Regions from separate parts of the Homo sapiens genome. Here region 2 is linked to region 1. The links come from fine-mapping of genetic effects on gene expression. A gene starts in region 1. The other region holds a variant in brackets. All regions are shown on one strand. Distances are between the middles of the regions. Region 1 holds the start of STYK1 (serine/threonine/tyrosine kinase 1). Region 2 overlaps STYK1 (serine/threonine/tyrosine kinase 1).

Region 1 (5,387 bases):
ATACATGCAATGCTCAACTAACTTGTGCATAATTAAAGACATTAGTTGTTAAAGGGTTGAACTGTACACCCTCTCAAAATTAATATGCTGACATTCTAACCCCCAGTAACTCATAATGTAACTTTATTGGGAGATGATAGTGCAGAGATAATCAATTAAAATGAGGTAATTAGGATGGACCCTAATCCAATAAGACTAGTGTCCTTATAAAAAGGGGAAATTCAGAGACATATATACAGGGAGAACACCATATAAACATCAAGACAGCCATCTACAAGCCAAAGAAAGAGGCCTGGAATAGATGCAGGCTTCATAACATGTTAGTTTTGGATAGCCAGCCTACTGAACTGTGAGAAAATCATTTCGTTGTTTAAGCCAGAGGTCACCAACACCCGGGGCGCCGACAGGTACGGGGTGCACAGCAGGAAATCAGAGGCAGGTGAGCCAGCAAAGCTTCATCTGCATTTACAGCCACTCCCCATCGCTGTCATTGCCTCCTGAGCTCCTCCTCCTGTCAGATAAGCCACGACATTAGATTTTCTTTCTTTTTCTTCCTCTTGTATTTTTGGTAGAGATGGGTTTCGCCAAGTTGCCCAGGCTGGTCTCAAACTCCTGAACTCAGGGCGATCCACCCACCAACTCCTCCTAAAGTGGTGTGATTACAGGTGTGAGCCACCGTGCCCACTAGCATTAGATTGTCATAGGAGCGTGAACCCTATTGTGAACTGCTCATGTGAGGGATATAGGTTGCGAACTCCTTATGAGACTCTAATGCCTGATGACGTAAGGTGGAACAGTTTCATTCTGAAACCATCTCCCGCCAACCTCATCGGCATCTGTGAAAAAAATTGTCTTCCACAAAATCAGTCCCTGGTGCCTGGTGCCAAAAGCCATGCAGTTTGTGGTACCTTGTTACAGCAGCCCTAGCAAACTCACACAGTAATGGAGGCACTGAACGAAAAAGTATATGATTTTCATTGAAGCAAATACTTCATGATGTCTCATTGAAAGACCTAGCTGCCCCCTAGCTAGCTGTCAGTGGAGATTCCGGTGCATTGAGGGGGAAAAACCAGGTAGACAGCACAGAGTTCTGTTTCCAGGTGTATTTCAGTTGAGCTGTGCTGCACATTACAGTAACTCGACTCCTTTATTGCCACTACTTCCCACCGAGTGGGAAGGAAGTGTGGTCTCATAGGTATAAGAAACTCCAATGTGGAGAGGACCCATTACAGAAGGAAGCAACAATCGCATAAATGAAAGAAAGAAAGGGGGGATGAAGGGTTGATAGAGAAAAATGAAAGAGGAAAAAAGACATTGAAAAGAAAACAGAGGCTAAAATGGTGAAACCCCGTCTCTACTAAAAATACAAAAAAATAAATAGCCGGCCGTGGTGGTGGGAGCCTGTAATCCCAGCTACTTGGGAGGCTGAGGCAGGAGAATCGCTTGAACCTGGGAGGCGGAGGTTGCAGTGAACCGAGATCGCGCCATTGCACTCCAGCCTGAGTGACAGAGCAAGACTCCCTCCCCCACTCCCCACCCCAAATAAAAAGAAGGAAAGAAAACAGAGATTCAGTCAACAAGGGATAGCACATCAGGCTGTACACTTTTAAAGCATGGTTATTGATATCTCATTTAAATATCGCAACAACCCTGGAAAGTAATTACCGTATTTATGCTTTGCAGATGAGGAAGCCGAAGCTGAAAGCAACGATTCCATGGTCTGAAAGGCTATGCAGTCCTCTGACAAGTAATTCCTGTAACCTCATTCTTTCCCTTCCCCCTCTCCTGATGGCCCCCTCTCCAGGAATAAACAGAGGTCCCCCATTCCTGGGTTTTCTCATGTTTCTCTCTGCACCAAATCTGCTGAGTCAGGTTTACTCCCTTATCATATAGAAACACAGAAGCCAAACCCCACAAGATGCTGGTTCCGAAGAAACACAGGTTAATTCACTTGGTGATTTCTGTTTGTTCACATAAACACCCGTTCCGCTCCCAGCCTCTTCCCTTTTTCTCCCTCCCCAACTGCAAAGTCCTCCCCCAGCTGCCTCGCTGCCATTCCCTTCCCACCTTCTTTACCCTCCCCGCCGCGCCCGCCCCCCATACCCCGTTCACTACCGTGTCCCTCCTCTGGTCACTCCGGTTTCCGATGGCACCGGCCCAGTCGGAGGGGAAATAATGACAGGGTTGGGTAGGGCAAGGTGTGCCAGCCTCAAGGAAATGCTTTTCAGTCCCTCCTTCCCACTGCGGGGCGTGGCTGCCGGCAAAGGATGGAGTTCGGGCGGGCTCCCGCGAAGGGAAGTCTGCGGGCTCCGAGGTTTCCGGGACTCGCCACACTCGAGCCACAGGAAACCTCTGCTGCAACTGTAAAGGCTGGACTTGTTGCTGATCTATACTCATTTCCTACTCTAGTGATTGCTAGATGTCAGGTATCACGGTGACTCCAGTCCAGGTGAAAACGGAGTCACGATACAGGGCAACAGCGCCACCTCACGGCCGGCCCCGTAGCAGCGGCCTCCATTGGCGCCTAAAAATGGTCAGGATTCACATTCAGGTGGATTATTCCGCGCCAGGAACATTCTCCACCTGAAGGCTTTGCCGGGGTGTTACAAGATAATACTGAAGGGACGGGAGTGGTGGCTTACGCCTGTAATCCCAGAACTTTGAGAGGCCAAGGCGGGTGGATCACCTGAGGTCAGCAGTTCGAGACCAGCCTGGCCAACGTGGCGAAACCCCGTCTCTACTAAAAATACAAAAATTAGGCGTGATGGCGGGCGCCTATAATCCCAGCTACTCAGGAGGCTGAAGCAGGAGAATCTCTTGAACCCAGGAGGCAGAGATCGCATAGAGCCGAGATTGTGCCACTGCATTGCAGCTTGGGCGACAGAGCAAGACTCCGTCTCAGAAAAAAAAAAAAAAAAAAGAAAAAAAAAAGTACTGACCACTGCGGAGACGTGGGGGAACCTATAAGGAATTAATGAGAATTAAAACCCCAAGATTACGTAATAGATCATTCATTTAGAGCCCGCGCGCGCGCGCGCGCGCACACACACACACACACACACACACACACATATATCCCATTATGTCCTGGGTTCTCCTCTGGGGAAACAGTGAACAAGGTAGTTATGTTACCCGTCCACATGGAAACTAAAATAATAGAAAATACTTAAGACAATAGATAGCTGAAGGAATTCTGTTAGATATTAACACCTAATACAAATTCAATTAAAGAAATAAGAGTCATAGGTAACTTGAATATGTGACCAATTTATTCAGCATTGAACGCATACCAAACACAAACTGACAGTCATTAGAGCAAAAAGAACTTGAGTCAATGTAATGTGGCATATTTAGAGATTGAGGTATGTCAGTTCTCTAGAGCTTTCTCTATTGGCATTTTCACTTCCTTCAGGGCTTTTTAAAAACAGGATGAATTGTACTTAATGCCACTGAACTGTTCATTTTTAAATGGCTAATGGTTGATTTTATGTTATGTGAATTTTACCTCAAAAGGGGAAAGGAAGACATCTCATCAGTTAGTTGTTCTTTAGATTCTTTATGTCATAAGTGATACATCAAATCCAAATGAACTGATTGGAACTTCATATTATGTAATTTTCTACTCTACCTCCCCAAGCATGCTCCTCCATGACAGATAAAGTGGTTTACTCATTTTTAAAATTTCTGCAATGTATTGCTAGATACTCATTCTGATGCACAGAATTTTGTCTAAAATCTAGTTACTATTATAGAAATAGAAGTTAAAAAAGAAACCAAAATACAATCCAGAAAGGGGAGGCAAAATTTTTCTCTCCAATTTTTTTGAGCAAATCACATAAATTATACATTAAAAACATTTTGAGTTAGAGAAAACACTGGAAATGATAATGCCCACACACAGAAACAACTAAGTACCAAATAGTCTGAGTTACACAGCAGACATTCACCAGGAGTTATATATGTATAGCTAGTCCCACACATTATACTCATTAATAAGATGGTTAGAATATCCATTATTTCTCTTTTTTCTTCAAGTTTTCATTCCCTTGTAATTTCAATTATTACCTCCATCTCAAATTTATAAGCCTCCAACTCATTGTCAACAATGCTTTGGCCCCAGTGTTTCTACCAGATCGTTATTTCTGCCTCATTATTAATTCCATAGGAATTTGTTGAATGCCCATTATCTCTCTGTCCAGATTAAGTACTGAACGGTAGTGGGAAGTCACACTGAAATATACACTGGAGATCTCTTCCTTCTCCAGTTTAGCCTACATGAATCCTAACTGCCAGATCCTGCGCTCCTCTAAACTGTTAAAGCCATCCATCCATGTGTTACTTAGTATATTCCCTCTTGTATGATTCTGCAGTTGTGAGGAAGGAATCTACTGGTTTAGTGGGGTGGAATCTATTTACGGAAGGCATGGAGGAATTCCTGGAAAGTCACTCATTATAAGAAAAAAGAAAATCAAAGCACAAAGGTATTTTCCACTAACAAGAATAGCTTGGGGTTCAGCGCTGGGTCTGCATCTCAATGTCCTTTGGCCAAGCCCGTATGCAATAACAGAGTCCTAGTGAGAGGGGACTCTCAAGTACAACTGGTAGAGTTATTTCACAGAAAAATACAACAGCAACAACAAAACCGTATGAGACCTTGTGTACACAAGGTAGCTTTGCTTTGGAACTGTTTTCAAGGGAATATAACACAAAAGCGGGGCAGGTGAATTCTTCCAACTTTATCTGGAAATGCAGTTCAACTTTCACAAAAGGGCAAGCAGTGGCTACCAGTAGGAGATAGCTCCACATGGGCCTGAGGCTTACCTGAAAGGCTTGCACTGGCACAGAGGATCAGAGTCACTCTGATGAAAATTATAAACAAAGTCAGCAGTAGAGTCACTGCTGCAGCAATGCCTGGCATGTAAATGGAGTTCCCAGGCATTTAGAGAACAATAGACATCACCAGAAGAAATCTAAGACAAGGAAAAGAGTGGATTCTATGTAGCCGCTAGGGTTTGGGATTGTGAAAATTTATGAGGTCCTCTACTATCTTGAGGATCTTCAGGGACAGTTGGGGAAAAGATCTTTTAAGAAACAACAGAGGTTCTGCAACCAACTAAAGGCGGCGACAGAGTATGGGAAATTACTATTCATATGACCTCATGTTTAACCCTGGTTGGTATACCCTAGAGAATATTGATCATTGGTAAGCTTCCATGTATATGTTGTTTCTTTTTACCTTATATATTAGTTTTCCATTGCTAACATAACACATTACCACACACTTAGTGGTCTAAACAACATAAATGTTTTATTTTACAGTTCTGTAAGTCAGAAGTCAACAAAATTCTATGTGGATTAAAATCAAGGTATTAGCAGGCCTGTATTCT
Region 2 (5,387 bases), 45 kb before region 1:
CCCATGGGAGCTTCAACCATAACTATTACTCTTTACCCACCTTAATCCTTTTTTTCTAACCTTTTCCTGATTCCACTTACATCCCTATATTTCACACCTCAAAGTAGCAAGATATATCAAATACTTAAAACAGTAGCTTCACAGAACCCCGATTTTCCATAGCAAATGTTAATTTTAAACACAACCATTTAAATAATTTCATAGAAATAGACATATAAACTTCCTGGGTAATTCTGGTAAAGGTAAATTTTTTATCTTAAACCCTGAGTTCTTTCTCTTATCTCGTTATTTAAGTTGTTTTAGGCCGGGCACGGTGGCTCATGCCTGTAATCCCAGCACTTTGGGAGGCCGAGGCGCGCGGATCACGAGGTCGGGAGATCGAGACCATCCTGGCTAACACAGTGAAACCCCGTCTCTACTAAAAATACAAAAAAATTAGCCGGGCGTGGTGGTGGGCGCCTGTGGTCCCAGCTACTCGGGAGGCTAAGGCAGGAGAATGGCGTGAACCTGGGAGGCGGAGCTTCCAGTGAGCCGAGATCGTGCCACTGCACTCCAGCCTGGGCAACTGAGCAAGACTCCATCTCAAAAAATAAATAAATAAATAAACAAATATTTAAGTTGTTTTAAAATAAAGGAATTATCCAACTGTGCTCTTCTCATTCATCCTTTTCCACTTGTTCCTTAATCTTTTATAATTATATGTACTCCCTGTCACATTCAGTATCAAAGCAAGTCTCCAACCAAACATGTTCTGAACTAGTTTTCTTGTTTCTCAGGTATAAAATTGCATACTTCCTTCTGGTTCTGTCGCCTTTCACCCATTCAGTTTCTCTTTCCATATCTTCTCCCTACTTGCTTCCCTATCTGTCTCTTTTAATTCTATTATTAGTACAAATGGGGATGTAAAATTATCAAGTAAATGGGTGTATACCTCTTGGCCCTGAAAAATCTGAAAAATCCTTCCTGTTCCTTGTATAAACCCTAAGTTGACTACTTTCTCCCTGAAATTACCAATAGTGTGGTAAATTATCTAGATAAATCCCTAAGGAAGGGACTAAAAACAATTTATCCATGCTTGAGTTTCTGCCCCCTAACTTCTATCTAATTTTCTTTAAAACATACACACCACTTGAGAATATTAATATGAGAAATATGGCATCAAAAACAAGGCTAACAAGGAAACGTCACACCATCAGTTGTCATGTTGCCTCATCTTACCAGCGCCAAAAGGACCTGCTTTCCGATGTGATATACTTGTTTTTCTGTGAGATCATAGAGAAGACCATCCATAGTCATCACATCCTAAAGAGACAGGGAAAAAAAGCCATTATATCAAAATAGCACTCACAGATTTGGAAAAGAAATAAAGTTGGGCAGAGATACTCTGAAATGCAGTTATCAAAGCTTTGAAAAATATAAGGACTAGTGTTCAAAGTGAGGCTGTGGGAGATTTTCAGATAGGCAGAGACATAAAATGATCCATTGGACTGGAAAAACAATGACAGACATAGATGAATAGCAGGTAAGACAAGTATAAATAAGACTATCCACTGAATAAAGCAGCAATTTTTCTAGGGCTCTGTGTGTGTGCTTGTGTGTGTATGCACATGTGAGCACACATGTGTTCATGATTAATTTAGCACATAAACTGAATGCATCTTTATTGAATGCCTGAAATGTCCCTTATTCCATGTTAGGAACTTGGAATACAAGCATGAGTAAAATAGCATGGCTGCTGCCTTCTGGAGCTTATTGGGTGACAGGCACATGTGAATCAGAATCAAATAATCATACATAAATCAATGGTTACATATCTGTAAGTGCCATAAAGGAAATGTACAAAGTGCTAAGAGAGCATATGATGGTGGGCAGAAGAGAGTTGATTGAGTTGCAGGGACAGGGAAATTGATGAGATCTGAAGGATGAGTGGACATTAACTATGAAAAGAAGAGAAGAGAGAAGTTTGGTGGAACAAGAAAAACATATAAAGATAATCTGAAATAGAGATGCGTGGTATTTTTTAAAAATGGAAAGAAGCTAGTGCAGTTAGAGGACAAAACAAGTTTTAGATGAGTGACCTCTTTAAAAAGTTTAAAATGCCTAAATACTTGCAATCGTCCTATTGACAATACAGGATGGAAGACAATAACAGGGTCCCTTTCTCATACACATTCAGTTGTACAATAATCAGCATATGAAGGAGGCTCAAAGAATATTGAACTTGCTCACTAGCAAGTGAGAAACTAGGGAAACAGGTAGCACTTCTGAAAGAGGAATATAGAACAAGGGAAATTTTAAGGAAAAGGACATCCATTTGAGGCTAAAAATTTCTGAATGCTTTAATTTTAAAAAACGTGAGTTTGAGCTACAAAAGCTTTACAAGCTAAATTTCTCCCTGAGTTTGCCCACCATATTATAGTGATGTTACAGAATGGAAAACACACTTAATAACTGCAACAAAATTATAATCATTACCAAAAATACTCATATAAAGATAATTGTTATATATAAACAATATAAAGATAATTGTTATATAATTATCTTTATAACAGCTACCATTTTGAGTGCTTACTCTGTACCAACCATGGCCATGTTTTCACATACATAATTTCTTGTATTTTTTGTAATAATTATTACTCCCATTTTACAGATTCAGAAAACTCAGGATCAGAAAGGTGACTTGCTCACAGTCACATAACTAGTAGGAGGTGAAGCCTAAAGTCCATGCTCTAAACTTGTACTGTCCACTCTCTGCTCATTAGCCACCTGTGGCTATTTAAACTTATATTACTTAAAATTAAATAAAATTTAAAATTTAGTTTCTCCATCACATCAGCCACACTTCAAGTGTCTAGAAGCCATCTGTGATTAGTGGCTTATCATACTGGATGGAGCAGTTATAGAATATTTCTATAATTACAAAAAGTTCTATTATATGGTCATACTCCCTTATTCTGTCATGCTATTATAGTGTCTCTGCATTTTGTCATTTGTCACACTAACTGACATGTAAAAAGCTAGTCAACAAGGTCAAGCCTTAACCTCCTAATACCTCTGCCCTACTGCTCACCCGCCGACAGGTCCAGAGAAAGCT[G/A]AGCAGGTCCCCCTGGGCCACATCCTCCAACACCATATAGAGTGGCAGCTTTTCAGTGCAGCAGCCTTCCAGCTGCACCAGGTTTTTGTGTTTCCCCAGGTATTGATGGAATTGGATTCGCCCTAAGAAATCTTGTACCTCATGGAGCCCAGCTGGTTCTGTAGAGGACGAAAGATCCAGGCAGTGAGCAGTCAGAGCATCCTCGATGAGTGGGAGGCAGGGAGCAGGAGGCAACTTAAGATGTTAATTCTCAAGGCCCCACATGGGAGTGAATGAAGGCAAAAATAAACACAAAGGGGACTAATTAGATGAAGATGATGCTTAATGTCACTGATCTTTTATCAAAGGTAACACAGAATCATAATTATTAGAACTGGATAGGCTTTCATCTGCCTAAATAGAGAGATAGTCTGTTTGCATTAAAAAGTTATCACTGTCTAGTCCTTTGGATTAATATCCTTGCTTGTCTTATCCTTGTTCTATGTATCCACCATTACTGGCCCATATCATGAAGAGGAGAGAGAGAGAGAGAGAGAGAGAGAGAGAGAGAGAGAGAGAGAGAGAGAGAGAGAGAGAAATATAATGTAAGCTGGGCATGATGGCTCACACCTGTAATCCCAGCACTTTGGGAGGTTGAGGCTGGTGGATCACCTGAGGTCAGGAGTTCGAGACTGGCCTGGCCAATATGGTGAAACCCCATTTCTACTAATAATACAAAAATTAGCTGGCCATAGTGGCACACGGCTGTAATCCCAGCTACTTGGGAGGCTGAGGCAGGAGAATCACTTAAACCTGGGAGGCGGAGGTTGCAGGGAGCCCAGATGGCACCATTGCACTCTAGCCTGGTGACAAGAGCAACACTCTGTCTCAAAAAAAAAAAAAAAGAAAAAAGAAATATAATATCAGGAAGGGGTATCAAAGAATAAAGTAAAATGAGGAAACAACCTCAGAATCCTAGTACAAGTAACATCCATTGTGAAAAAATCTGTTTTAACAGCCTCAATAGGCAAAGATGAGCTAGGGAACCTAGGATGCAAAGAAGAGCTAGGGAATCTAGGATGCAAAGATGTTTTAACATATGCAAATCAATTCTGTGACATACCGCATTAACAGAATAAAGGATAAACATCATATGATCATTTCAATCAATGCAGAAAAGGCATTTGATAAAATCCAATATCCTTTCATGATAAAAACACTACACAAAGTACAGAAGGAATGTACCTCAACACAATAAAGACTGTGTAAAAACCCACAGCTAACATCTTACTCATCATAACATTATGCTTATTTGTAGTAGTCATTTTAGTTATTATTTGGAGATTGGGTAAGGATTCACAAATAAACAATTTGTGTAATTAAAAAAAAAGACACCAAGAAAAACATTTCTGCCTCAAGTTTCCACTCTATTACCTTCTTCTGTACACAGTTATGATCACAACTATCTGTTAGTTAACATCTCAATGTTCGCAAAGCCTGTTAATATTTACTGTTAGGGGAAGGGGGAGTCAAACACTTCTTGTTTTACCTTTTAAAGCCTTGAGAATAACACTCTTGGGCTTAGAAGGGTCCCCAGTGTTCATATTGGCTCGAAAGATGGGCCCACAGCTACCACTGCAAATCTGCTCCAGAACTTCAGAGAGTTGCTCCCGCGGCACCTGCAGCTTAGCCAGGGCAGGTGTGGTAGCTCCCAGAAAGTTTTCCACGGATGTCTCCTTAAGTGGCAAAGCCACATTTCCTCCATGTCCTGCTTCCCAGCTTAGGTCCCTAGGTGGAGGAACAGGGGCAATGCCTAGAACAGAGAGATGATGTCAACCAGTTTTTCCCCGCCCTGGGGATCCCGGAAAGCAGACCCTGAAACAAATTGGCAAGGAGGTTCCTTCAGCAGTTTTCTCTTTGGCCAATGGGGAGTTGTCTTCTGATGCTTCTCTATAAACCAGCATCAATGTCAAGTTTGTAGAACCTTTATAATAATCCCCATTAGTTCTTAGGACAACTCAAGAAGGACCCCAGGAAATCGGTCATGACACTTCCTTTCTGCCTTCCTTCCTCTGGGTTACAATTGAGTACTTCCCATGAGTGTGGTATGGAGACAATTAGGGAAGTTACTGAATAGGTATCCAAACCACAGATGCCTAAAGGTGGAGGTAACTGCCAGTGAGAACTGTCATTTAAATCAGACAAATGGCTTTCAACGTTGGAGGAAAGGTATGGATAATTAATCAGCTTTAAGCTATGGTTATTCTTCCTCCTTTGAGTTACCCCAAAAGTCAAGTTATTTCATATTTCCTTG

What was found.
Region 2: its variant is fine-mapped to the expression of STYK1 in nasal epithelium (TOPMed, PIP above 0.99). The same link has a PIP of 0.9 or more in prefrontal cortex and unexposed skin.

Annotation. Positions count from the first base shown.
Region 1 is chr12:10,671,851-10,677,237 of GRCh38, forward strand. It overlaps STYK1 (serine/threonine/tyrosine kinase 1), which reads right to left and starts at 2,202. Exons shown (of 11, transcript NM_018423.3): 1 at 2,116-2,202.
Region 2 is chr12:10,626,423-10,631,809 of GRCh38, forward strand. It overlaps STYK1 (serine/threonine/tyrosine kinase 1), which reads right to left. Exons shown (of 11, transcript NM_018423.3): 5 at 4,623-4,886; 6 at 3,071-3,252; 7 at 1,219-1,302. Among named protein-coding and RNA genes, the nearest start is that of MAGOHB, 16 kb to the left of the region's middle. The variant G/A (reference allele first, on the strand shown) is at 3,095.